Linked DNA regions of Homo sapiens: region 1 is linked to region 2. Evidence: fine-mapped expression QTL. Tissue or cell type: thyroid. Region 2 holds a variant in brackets; the other region holds the start of a gene. All regions are shown on one strand. Distances are between the middles of the regions. Region 1 holds the start of LINC01176 (long intergenic non-protein coding RNA 1176). Region 2 overlaps NOD1 (nucleotide binding oligomerization domain containing 1).

The links. PIP is the estimated chance that this variant, and not a neighbour inherited with it, causes the effect.
Region 1: LINC01176 starts here. The variant in region 2 is fine-mapped to the expression of LINC01176 in thyroid (GTEx, PIP 0.97).

Annotation. Positions count from the first base shown.
Region 1 is chr7:30,388,312-30,393,698 of GRCh38, reverse strand. LINC01176 (long intergenic non-protein coding RNA 1176) reads right to left here and starts at 2,814. Exons shown (of 3, transcript NR_108081.1): 1 at 2,664-2,814. RefSeq lists an enhancer at 2,014-2,632.
Region 2 is chr7:30,422,667-30,428,053 of GRCh38, reverse strand. NOD1 (nucleotide binding oligomerization domain containing 1) reads left to right here. Exons shown (of 14, transcript NM_006092.4): 14 at 2,344-3,527. The coding sequence ends at 2,416. Among named protein-coding and RNA genes, the nearest start is that of LINC01176, 34 kb to the right of the region's middle. The variant G/A (reference allele first, on the strand shown) is at 2,174.

The sequences.
Region 1 (5,387 bases), 34 kb after region 2:
AAAAACAAAACTCTCCACCCATTGCTTGCACCACATAAAAAAAGTAACTAGAAATGGATCATACCTTAACTGCAATACCTAAATCTTCTACAACAAGAGTTAGCAAACTAAGGCTCATGGGCCAAATCTTTATCTGTTTTTGTAAAAACAGTTTTACTGAACACCTATTCATTTATGTATTTTATGGCTGCTTACATGCTACAACAGTGACTATGACCTGTAAAGCCTAAAATATTTTCTATTTGGCCCTTTACAGAAAAAGTTTGCTCACCTCTTTTCTAGAAGACAGATCTTTGTAACTTTGGGTTTACCAAACATTTCTTAGATTTGACACCAAAAGCACAATTCAAAAAAGAAAAAGACCCAATAAATTGAACTTCCATCAAAATTTTAAATGTCTGCTCTTCAAAAGACATTGCTAAGAAAACAAAAGAACAAGCCAGACTGGGAGAAAATAGAAAATACTTGCAAGTCATATATATATGTATATATATATGACATATATATATATGTATATATATATGACATATATATATGTCGTATATATATATGACATATATATATGTGTATATATATGACATATATATGTATATATGACATATATATGTATATATGACATATATATGTATATATATGACATATATATGTATATATATGACATATATGTGTATATATATGACATATATATGTATATATGACATATATGTATATATATGCCATATATATGTATATATATGCCATATATATGTATATATGCCATATATGTATATATGTCATATATATGTATATATATGTGACATATATATGTATATATATGACATATATATGTGTATATGACATATATATGTATATATATATGACATATATATGTATATATATGACATATATATGTTATATATATGACATATATATGTATATATATACATATATATGTATATATGACATATATATGTATATATTTGACATATATATTTGACATATATATATTTGACATATATATATATTTGACATATATATATATATATTTGACATATATATATATATATATATAATTTTTTTTTTTTTAAAGACAGGGTGTCACTCTGTCTCCCAGGCTGAAGTGCAGCAGCACAATCATGGCTCACTACAGCCACAACCGCCCAGGTAGCTGGGACAAAAGGCGTGTGCCACCACCATGCCTGGCTAATTTTTTGTATTTTTTGTACTTTTTTTTTTTTTTGTAGAGATGGGGTTTCACCATGCTGCCCAGGCTTGTCTCGAACTCCTGGGCTCAAGCAATTTGCCCACCTTGGCCTCCCAAAGTGCTGGGATTACAAGCGTGAGCCACCACACCTGGCCAAAACCATATTTTTGATAAAGGATTTGTATCAAGAATATACAAAGAATTCTCAAGATTCAGTAAGAAAACATACAATCCAGTTTTTCAAAAATGTGCCAAAGGGTTGAATAGACACTTCACTAAAGAAAATATACCTGTAGCAAAGAAGAATATGAAAAAATACACAACATCATTTGCATTGGGAGAATGAAAATGAAAAACACAATGAAATGCACCGTATACCCAAGTCAAAACAAAAAAATAGCAAAAACATCAAAACTGCAGACAATATCAAATTCTGGTGAGGATGCCAATCACCTGGAATTTTCATACATTTTTGGTGGGAATGCAAAGTGGCACCACCAGTTTGCAAACCTGTTTGGCAATTTCCTACTAAGTATATATACATATTTATCATATAACTAGCTATCCCACTCCTAGGAATGTACTCAAGAGAAACAAAATCTTTGATTCACATAAAAACTTCTAGGTGAGGCCGGGCGCAGTGGCTGACGCCTGTAATCCCAGCACTTTGCGGGACAGAGGCAGGCGGATCATGAGGTCAAGAGATCAAGACCATCCTGGCCAACATGGTGAAACCCAGTCTCTACTAAAAATGCAAAAATTAGCTGGGCGTGGTGGCATGTGCCTGTAATCCCAGCTACTAGGGAGGCTGAGGCAGGAGAATCACTTGAACCTGGGAGGCGGAGGTTGCAGTGAGCCAAGATCGGACCACTGCACTCCAGCCTGGCGACAGAGCGAGACTCTGTCTCAAAAACAAAACAAAACAAAACAAAAAAACTTCTAGGTGAATGTTAACAGCAGCTTAACCACTGTCACTAAAAACTGGAACCAACACAAATCTTCCACTAGTAAATGGATGAGTAAACTATGGATTGCCACTCAGCAATTAAAAGGACCAAGCTGCTGAATACACATGACAACATGGATGACTCAAATGATTATGCTAAGTGGAAGAAGCTGGGCTTCTGTGATTTTCTATTCTCATTCATATTCAAGTTGCTTGGGTAACTTGTAATCTTTATCGCTTGCCACACATTATTCTTGAATAAGTATTTAACGGGAGTCTCCTGACGCTTGAGATGAGCCCTCTTCCAGAGAGATCTTGCTGTGCTTCTGCCGAATTCAGATTTTGAGAATCCTTGGCCCAACCAGCTATGTATATTTGAGAAGCTAATCTTCAGGGAAGCAGATATGCACAGGCCTTCCAGGGAAATTGTATTTTCTATTTCTTTTCCTCCCTGCTCCAAGAGCACCAAGGTAGCCACAGTTCATTACAACTGCTGGGAAGAGGGCACTGGGTTCAGCTCTGACTCCTCCTTACCTTTAGCTCCTTGTTATCCGATTCCTGTTGGTAGGGTCTCCTGCAAGCACACTGTCTTGCGTGGGCTCTGTGCTTTAACATGTTTTCTTGGCTCAGCCAGGCCACAGAAACAGCAGACAAGTGTTTGTGGTATCAGCAACTGCTGTCTCAGCACAGGCAGCTTTTTGTTCCAGTATTCCATTTCCCTCCCTGGTTATAGACTTTTATCCAAAAACTGGCCTGGAAGTTCAATGTTTTTTTAGTTCTTCACTTAAAAAAAGCCATTATTTTGTTTCTTCAAGTTTTCATAACCAGCCATCACCAGAAACTGGAAGTCCAAACATGCTCTTATTATTTAAGTAATTGGTGTACATGGTATAAATTCACGTCTTACAGAAAGATGCACAATGAAAAAAAGCAGCCTCTCCATGGCCCCTCCTCCCAATTCCAGTCCCACCCACTCCAAGTAAAGCAAAAAGTGCTTTAGTTGTATTTCTAAACGTTCCTACAACAGATATCTATTATTTTGCAATGGGAAAAATTTTACTTTAAAACATCCCCGGAACTTCTAATCTTCTGATACTTATAACCTCCATATCTCCAAGTAACATCTTTCTCTGTCTCTTGGTTCACAAACTCCTATGTCCAATATCTCCCACCTAAAAATGATGCCCTTTATAATCCCCTTGAAAAAGTGGAGTATACTTACCTCCTTGCCACAATCCCAATATGTTAGTCTTATTATTTCTTAGCTTACTGAGTGCCAACTATGTGCCAGGCAGTGCTTTAGAACCCATGGATACAATAGTGATCAAAACTAACAAAGTCCTTGACTTCACAGTGCTTACATTCTGGAAGAAGAGTGACAATAAACAAACATAAGATTTGTCAGGTAAATGTTATAGAAAAATAGAACAAGGTAAAGGAAACAGGGAATGTAGGGGTGAGGGCAGATTCATGAACTTATTTTGTATTGTATAGTTAAGGAAGGGCACTCAGATAAGGCGATATCTGAGCCAACGCAACAAAGGAAGTGAAAGAGGAAGCCTGTGGATACTTGGAGGAATTGTTATAGGCAGAAGGAAGAAGTGCCAAGGCCCTGACACAGGGGCTTGCTTGCCTGGTGTATTCCAGGAATAGCTTCAGGGGAACAAGTCAGGGGTGAGCAGGAGAAGATGAGCTAGAGAGGCAGGAGTGAGTGGCATGTACATGTCTGTGTGTATGCATACATGCACACTCCGGATGGCTGAGGGTATTTTAGGTCATGGTAAAGACCTTAGCTTTGGCTCTGAGTAAGATGGGAGCCAAGGGGGATTTTCAGCAGAGTAGTACCATGATCTGACGCTGTATTTGTTAACTTATAATGACCCCTATATTCCTTGATCCATCAACTTTAGACCAAAATGTTCATCGAAACATTTTTTGTAACAGTAAAATATTGGGGGAAATTATTTGACCACAAGCATTGTCTAAAGATATTATGGTACAACTACGAAATGGAATACTATGCAAATACAAAACATGATAAATGGAATGTTAGAAATGTGGTTCTAAAATACCACATATAATGTTATCCTGTGAATATATATGCATTGAAGAGTATGGAAAGACATATGCCAACAAATAAGGAGAAAAAAGTCTCTGGGGAGATGGGAAAAGGAGAAATATGAAGGTATTTTTTCCTTTGTGCCTTGTGTTTCCAAAAGTTCCTACAACACATATCTATTATTTTGCAGTGGGGAAAATTTTACTTTAAAACATCCAAGGCCAGGCGTGGTGGCTCACGCCTGTAATCCCAGCACTTTGGGAGGCCGAGGGGGGTGGATCACCTGAGGTCAGGAGTTCAAAACCAGCCTGGCCAATGTGGTGAAACCCTGTCTCTTCTAAAAATACAAAAATTAGCCTGGTGTGGTGGCGGGCGCCTGTAATCCCAGCTACTCAGGAGGCTGAGGATGGAGAATCGCTTGAACCCGGGAGGTGGAGGTTGCAGTAAGCCGAGATCGCGCCACTGCATTCCAGCCTGGGCGACAAAAGTGAAACACCGTCTAAAAAAAAAAAAAAAAATCCAAAAGATTAGAACCATAAACTAATCATTTTCTTTGTTTTAAGCTCAAAACAATTATATACAGCTCCTATGAGAATAATCAATACTGAATATCAACAAACTGACACGCATGTGGCTACCAAGTCTCTAGAATGACCCACTGAAATTCAGTAAAAGCTTAGAGAGCACAGGGTTAACTGCCATGCTGCACTATTTCCCCTCTTACTTGAACAAAGTAACACTTGCTGATGTAACTGTGCTTGCCAAGTTTTTGATAGTAAGTCCATCATGTCTCGTAACTTCAAAGAGTCTCAAAAGTGTCAAGATCCTAAGACAGGAAACTTCTGGTAGCTGACAATGTCTGGTTAATAGGGGGTTTGGTGAAAGCACAGGCAATGGGCACAGTAGAGAAGCAAGCAGCAAACAATGGAGATGTCCAGGACCATCCTGGCACGTGTTCTCCAGCGTTTCTAGGAAAGGTCTCTGGTCTAGTTATCAACCGCTGTGTAACAAACCATCCCAAACTTAGTGAGATGAAACAACAATCATATATCATCTTCTCTCACAATTCTGGGGATTGACTGGACTCAGCTAGGCAGCTCTCCCTCAGGTCTCTCATCCAGCTCTAGCCAGATGGTGGTTAGGGTGGAATCATCTAGAAGGCTTCCTCACTCACATGTTTGGTGGTTGACGTGGCCAGG
Region 2 (5,387 bases):
TAGAGCCCAGATCTAAACAGACACCTGTGGCCTGTGTGCCTGCGAAGCCCAGCCTGCCCAGCAGCCTGGGAAGCACTGGAGGGCACTGGAACTGTTTGCATGGGTGTTTGCCCTCAGGCCACTCCGTTTCTGCTGATTCTTAAGTTTTGAGGACAGCAGGCAGAGGGGGAGAGGAAGGAGACTGCCAGACTACAGAACAGTTTGCAGAGCACAGTTGGCTTCCACTTTTCTCTGTAGCTGGTCAGGCGGGTAGTAAAGACCTACAGTTGCTTTAATTCTGTCAAGTTTCAAAATCTGCATTGCTTCCCTCTTGAGGGTCACCATTCCTACACAAGGAACCATTTTAGTAGGGCCAGGAGACTTCAGCTTCAAGGCCTGCACTTGTGTCAGGGTGGAGAGGGGAACTGGCCACCAATTCAGAGAGGGCAGGACAGGCGGCATGGGTGCTGGTCTTGGGAGTGTCTTCACTTAGGTCCCTGGCTTGTTCTGGGAGCCTCCAGAGCATGCTCCTCTGTGTGTGACTTCATGGGACTGGGCTCTGAGAAGGCTGTGGCTTTGTTGGCCCTGCCAGGGACTGCCACACCAGGCCACAGGGTTGTGGTTGAGCTGGCCGGGGAGCCACGTTCAGGGAGCAGCTCTGCTTGGAGCCAACACTTACAGAGTAAGCCTTCTCCTTGGACTTGTTAACTGTACTGACACTTATTTCTACCTCATTCCTTTCTGAAAATAACTTGGAAGTCTGAAGTCCCTTGATGAGTTCTGTCTTTAAGAACAGAAATTAGAGGTGAACAATGAACACTGTAAATTACAGAAATGTATCCCACTCCAGTATAACAGCTTTCTGTGAGGCTATCTCCTCCAGACTGTGGCTCTGGGAGGGTGGGGCCTGAGTCAAGGTCCTAGGGACTAGTGCTGTGTCTTCATTTATTCCTTGAATAACGAAACGCTTGAGCATCAGGGACTGTGCTAGCACCAAAAATCCAGTGGTGAACAACATGGCTTCATGGGTTCACTGTCTAGAAAGGGAGAAGCACATTAAAGAAAAAATCATTTGCGTAATTATTTAATTACAACTGTGATGGGTACTATCACAAAGGGGAAGGCCAAGAGGGAACCTGATTTAGATGAGGTTGCAGGGAAGGCCTCTCTGAGGAAGCAGCACTTACACTAAGCCATGAAGGATGAATAGGAGCTAGTCAGCTGAGGTGAGTATTCTGCGTAGGGAACAGCATGTGCAAAGGGTCTGGGGCAGGAGGGAGTGTGGTGTCCTGGAAGAACTGCCAGAAGCTGCTGTGCCCCAGGGTTCAGACAGTGTGGAAGAGGGGACTACAGGAGGCTGAGGAGATAGGCAGGGACTGGACCATAAAAGATCTGTGGGTCATGATGTGCATTTTGGTCTTTATCCTAAAAGTGATGGAAAGTCAGTGAACAGTTTGAAGCAGGAGAGGCATGTGATCAGATCTGCAATGCAAAAAGACCAATTCTTGGCTCTTCTAGGAAACTGAATTGGAGAAGGCCAGAGTACGTGGAAATGACCTGTCAGTAGGACATTGTACTGATGCAGGGAAGAGATGATGGGTGCTCAGACCAAGATGGCCGGCCAAAGACATAGAGGTTCCAGGGAGGCATTCTAGATTCTTAGGAATTAGGGGAGAACTTTGTGATACAAGGAACATGGGGATGAGAAGGAAGGTGTCCAGGTTGACCCCCAGGTTACTAACCTGCTCAGCAGGATGAGAGTGGTCCATTCACTAAGCCAGGGGACCCTAGGAGGTGTGGCTACTTTGAGGTGTGGGGGAGAGGTCCAAGTGAGGATGCCAAGCAGGTAACTGCCTCCACGGACATACAAACAAGGCCGTGGCATTGATGAGATCGGGTGGGGAAAAGGGCTTAGCCCCAAACCTGGAGGAAATCTCAGATGTAGAGGTCACATGGAGGAGAATATAGGAAAGGAAATTGAAGTAGAGTGCTCAGATGCAGGAGAAAAATCAGCGCATATAACCAAGCCAAGGGGAGGGAGTGCCTCAAGAAGGAGGGAGAGGAGAGGTCAGGACAGCCAAAATCCTGAGGGCCAAGAAAGACAAGACCTGGAAAATGTCATTAAATTCAGGCTTATGGAGGCTACAGGTGACCTTAGTGAGACCCAGTGAACAGAGGGATGGCAGCTGGAGAG[G/A]ATCCATGCTAATATGAAGGAACTATCTGCAAAGGGTATGTTCCTTAATTTCAGGGATACATGTGTATTGTGTGATACACGAGTGTGTGCTATGAACACACCTTGGGAAGGAGTGTGCGAGGATCCTTAACATTTTACCTGTGTACTTTTGTCTTCCTCCTTTTCAACAGCCTAAATGGAAACCTGATAAAACCAGAGGAGGCCAAAGTCTATGAAGATGAGAAGCGGATTATCTGTTTCTGAGAGGATGCTTTCCTGTTCATGGGGTTTTTGCCCTGGAGCCTCAGCAGCAAATGCCACTCTGGGCAGTCTTTTGTGTCAGTGTCTTAAAGGGGCCTGCGCAGGCGGGACTATCAGGAGTCCACTGCCTCCATGATGCAAGCCAGCTTCCTGTGCAGAAGGTCTGGTCGGCAAACTCCCTAAGTACCCGCTACAATTCTGCAGAAAAAGAATGTGTCTTGCGAGCTGTTGTAGTTACAGTAAATACACTGTGAAGAGACTTTATTGCCTATTATAATTATTTTTATCTGAAGCTAGAGGAATAAAGCTGTGAGCAAACAGAGGAGGCCAGCCTCACCTCATTCCAACACCTGCCATAGGGACCAACGGGAGCGAGTTGGTCACCGCTCTTTTCATTGAAGAGTTGAGGATGTGGCACAAAGTTGGTGCCAAGCTTCTTGAATAAAACGTGTTTGATGGATTAGTATTATACCTGAAATATTTTCTTCCTTCTCAGCACTTTCCCATGTATTGATACTGGTCCCACTTCACAGCTGGAGACACCGGAGTATGTGCAGTGTGGGATTTGACTCCTCCAAGGTTTTGTGGAAAGTTAATGTCAAGGAAAGGATGCACCACGGGCTTTTAATTTTAATCCTGGAGTCTCACTGTCTGCTGGCAAAGATAGAGAATGCCCTCAGCTCTTAGCTGGTCTAAGAATGACGATGCCTTCAAAATGCTGCTTCCACTCAGGGCTTCTCCTCTGCTAGGCTACCCTCCTCTAGAAGGCTGAGTACCATGGGCTACAGTGTCTGGCCTTGGGAAGAAGTGATTCTGTCCCTCCAAAGAAATAGGGCATGGCTTGCCCCTGTGGCCCTGGCATCCAAATGGCTGCTTTTGTCTCCCTTACCTCGTGAAGAGGGGAAGTCTCTTCCTGCCTCCCAAGCAGCTGAAGGGTGACTAAACGGGCGCCAAGACTCAGGGGATCGGCTGGGAACTGGGCCAGCAGAGCATGTTGGACACCCCCCACCATGGTGGGCTTGTGGTGGCTGCTCCATGAGGGTGGGGGTGATACTACTAGATCACTTGTCCTCTTGCCAGCTCATTTGTTAATAAAATACTGAAAACACTCTTACGGGTTGAGTCTGGAGTTTTTGAAGGGACTTGGCTTGGTAAGCACTCATTGACTCCTGAGCCCCATCCTGATTCACTCCACAGTGGGGAAGGGGCTCTGGGGTGATGTGCTATGAGGAGAGCCTGATGAAGGCCAGGGGTGTCACCAGTTTGATCCTTCACAGGCCTCTCTGCCTACCAAGGGACAGGAAGCGGCTGTGGCAGCCTCTGAGGTCTCTCCATCTGGCCTCTGAATCTCTTCAGGTGGCTTCTCAGAGGAAATAACTTGTGAGTAGGGGGTGGCTGGTGCCAGGACAGGCCAAGTGGGCCAAAGTTCATGCCTTCATCACCATGCCATGGTAGAGCCCACGGGCCAGGTTCGACGTCCACTACCTTCCTCGGCTGTTCACTGCTGAGTGGCGGATCCAGGTAGGCCCATGGCAAGAAGCACCGAGCTGCCAGGGGCAGCACGTGACAGAGGAAGGCATGCAGGGCCTCCAACGGTCCACCTCTGAGTTCTTATGAGTCCAAGCCTGGCTTTGTAGAGCAGCCTGTTAGGAAGGGGACCGTTGCGGGGGAAATCCTGTACAGTTAAGCAACTACAAGGCGGCAGTTCCTTAAAGGCTCGATTTTGGTGGTTCCTACGAGGTCCCTCCCAACCCCAGACCTGAGTATTCACCTAATAATCACCCCAAGGCAGCCACTCTCTCCTTACTGCAGAATCTGGGCAGCAAATATGCCCAGAAAGAAGAAAGAAGGGAATGAGCATGGCCCACTGAAGGCCAAAGGGGGAGTACCACAGACCTCAGACTCGCCAAGTCTTACCACAAAGTTCACTTCTCAGCAGACAAAATTCACATTTTATTAAACTGCTAAAACTAAACCCTTGAGAGTCTAAAATTTACTCAGAAACTACCAAATGTTATTGCTTTTAGAGACTATCAAAATTAAAACTGCTGCTTCTAGGGAATTAGAATTTGTGTGGTATTGACTTAAATTCTATTTGGAAATACTTTGATCTTCCAGATGGCAAGTGGTAGATTTTCTATTCCTCCTGTAAAACTGAGACCAGGCTCCTAATTTGATGGAAAGGTTCTCTTATTAGAAACAGGTGAGCTTCTGAGCAGAAACATGGAGACTTTTCCTAATCAAGAAAAAGACAATTGAAAAAAAAAATTCTGTAAACGAGGGCTATATCTCTTTCTTTCCACAGGACATCTTGATTGATTTTGGGAAAGAAGCTACAGCTCCCATATTTCACACCTGCACTTGTGTCATGTCCATGCTGACATGGAACTTCTTTAAAAAGCCATGTGGAGCCACTGTGTGGCCATGTGGTATTAGCTCTCTGGAGCGCCCTAGCTGTGTGGCTTTGGAGCACTCTTAAGACGGCCAGAATCTTGATTTCCTCCTTGGAAAAACTGAGAGAATCTGACTCAAAAGGTTGTTGAGAGGATTAAATGAGTCATGGAAAGTAGCTGGCACAAAGCCTGGCACAGAGTCCTGCTCAACGTATGGCAGTTAGTTACTATCAAGCCAGCGGGTCTCATTTCCGCTCACCGTGGGACTCCCAAGTTGTCCCCTTCTCACTCATAGGCTCAGGGAACTTTCCAACAAGGTCCAATACAGGACTAGGAGTTCTCAAAGTAAAACCCCAAAGTATTCAACATCAAGCTTCCTGCAATATCCTACCTTTGTCAGTGAAAAGCATAGCTGTTAGTTTTCATTATTATTACCAAAGACCATACTGCCATTTAAGTGTCAAGTCACTGAACATAGGGGGCACCTGTGTCTTCACAGCACAAAAGAACAGGGCAGGAGCTGGCACCACCCTATGGAGCCAGGCCCATGAGCCTTTGCCAAGCGGGAAAGCGCTTTCTGC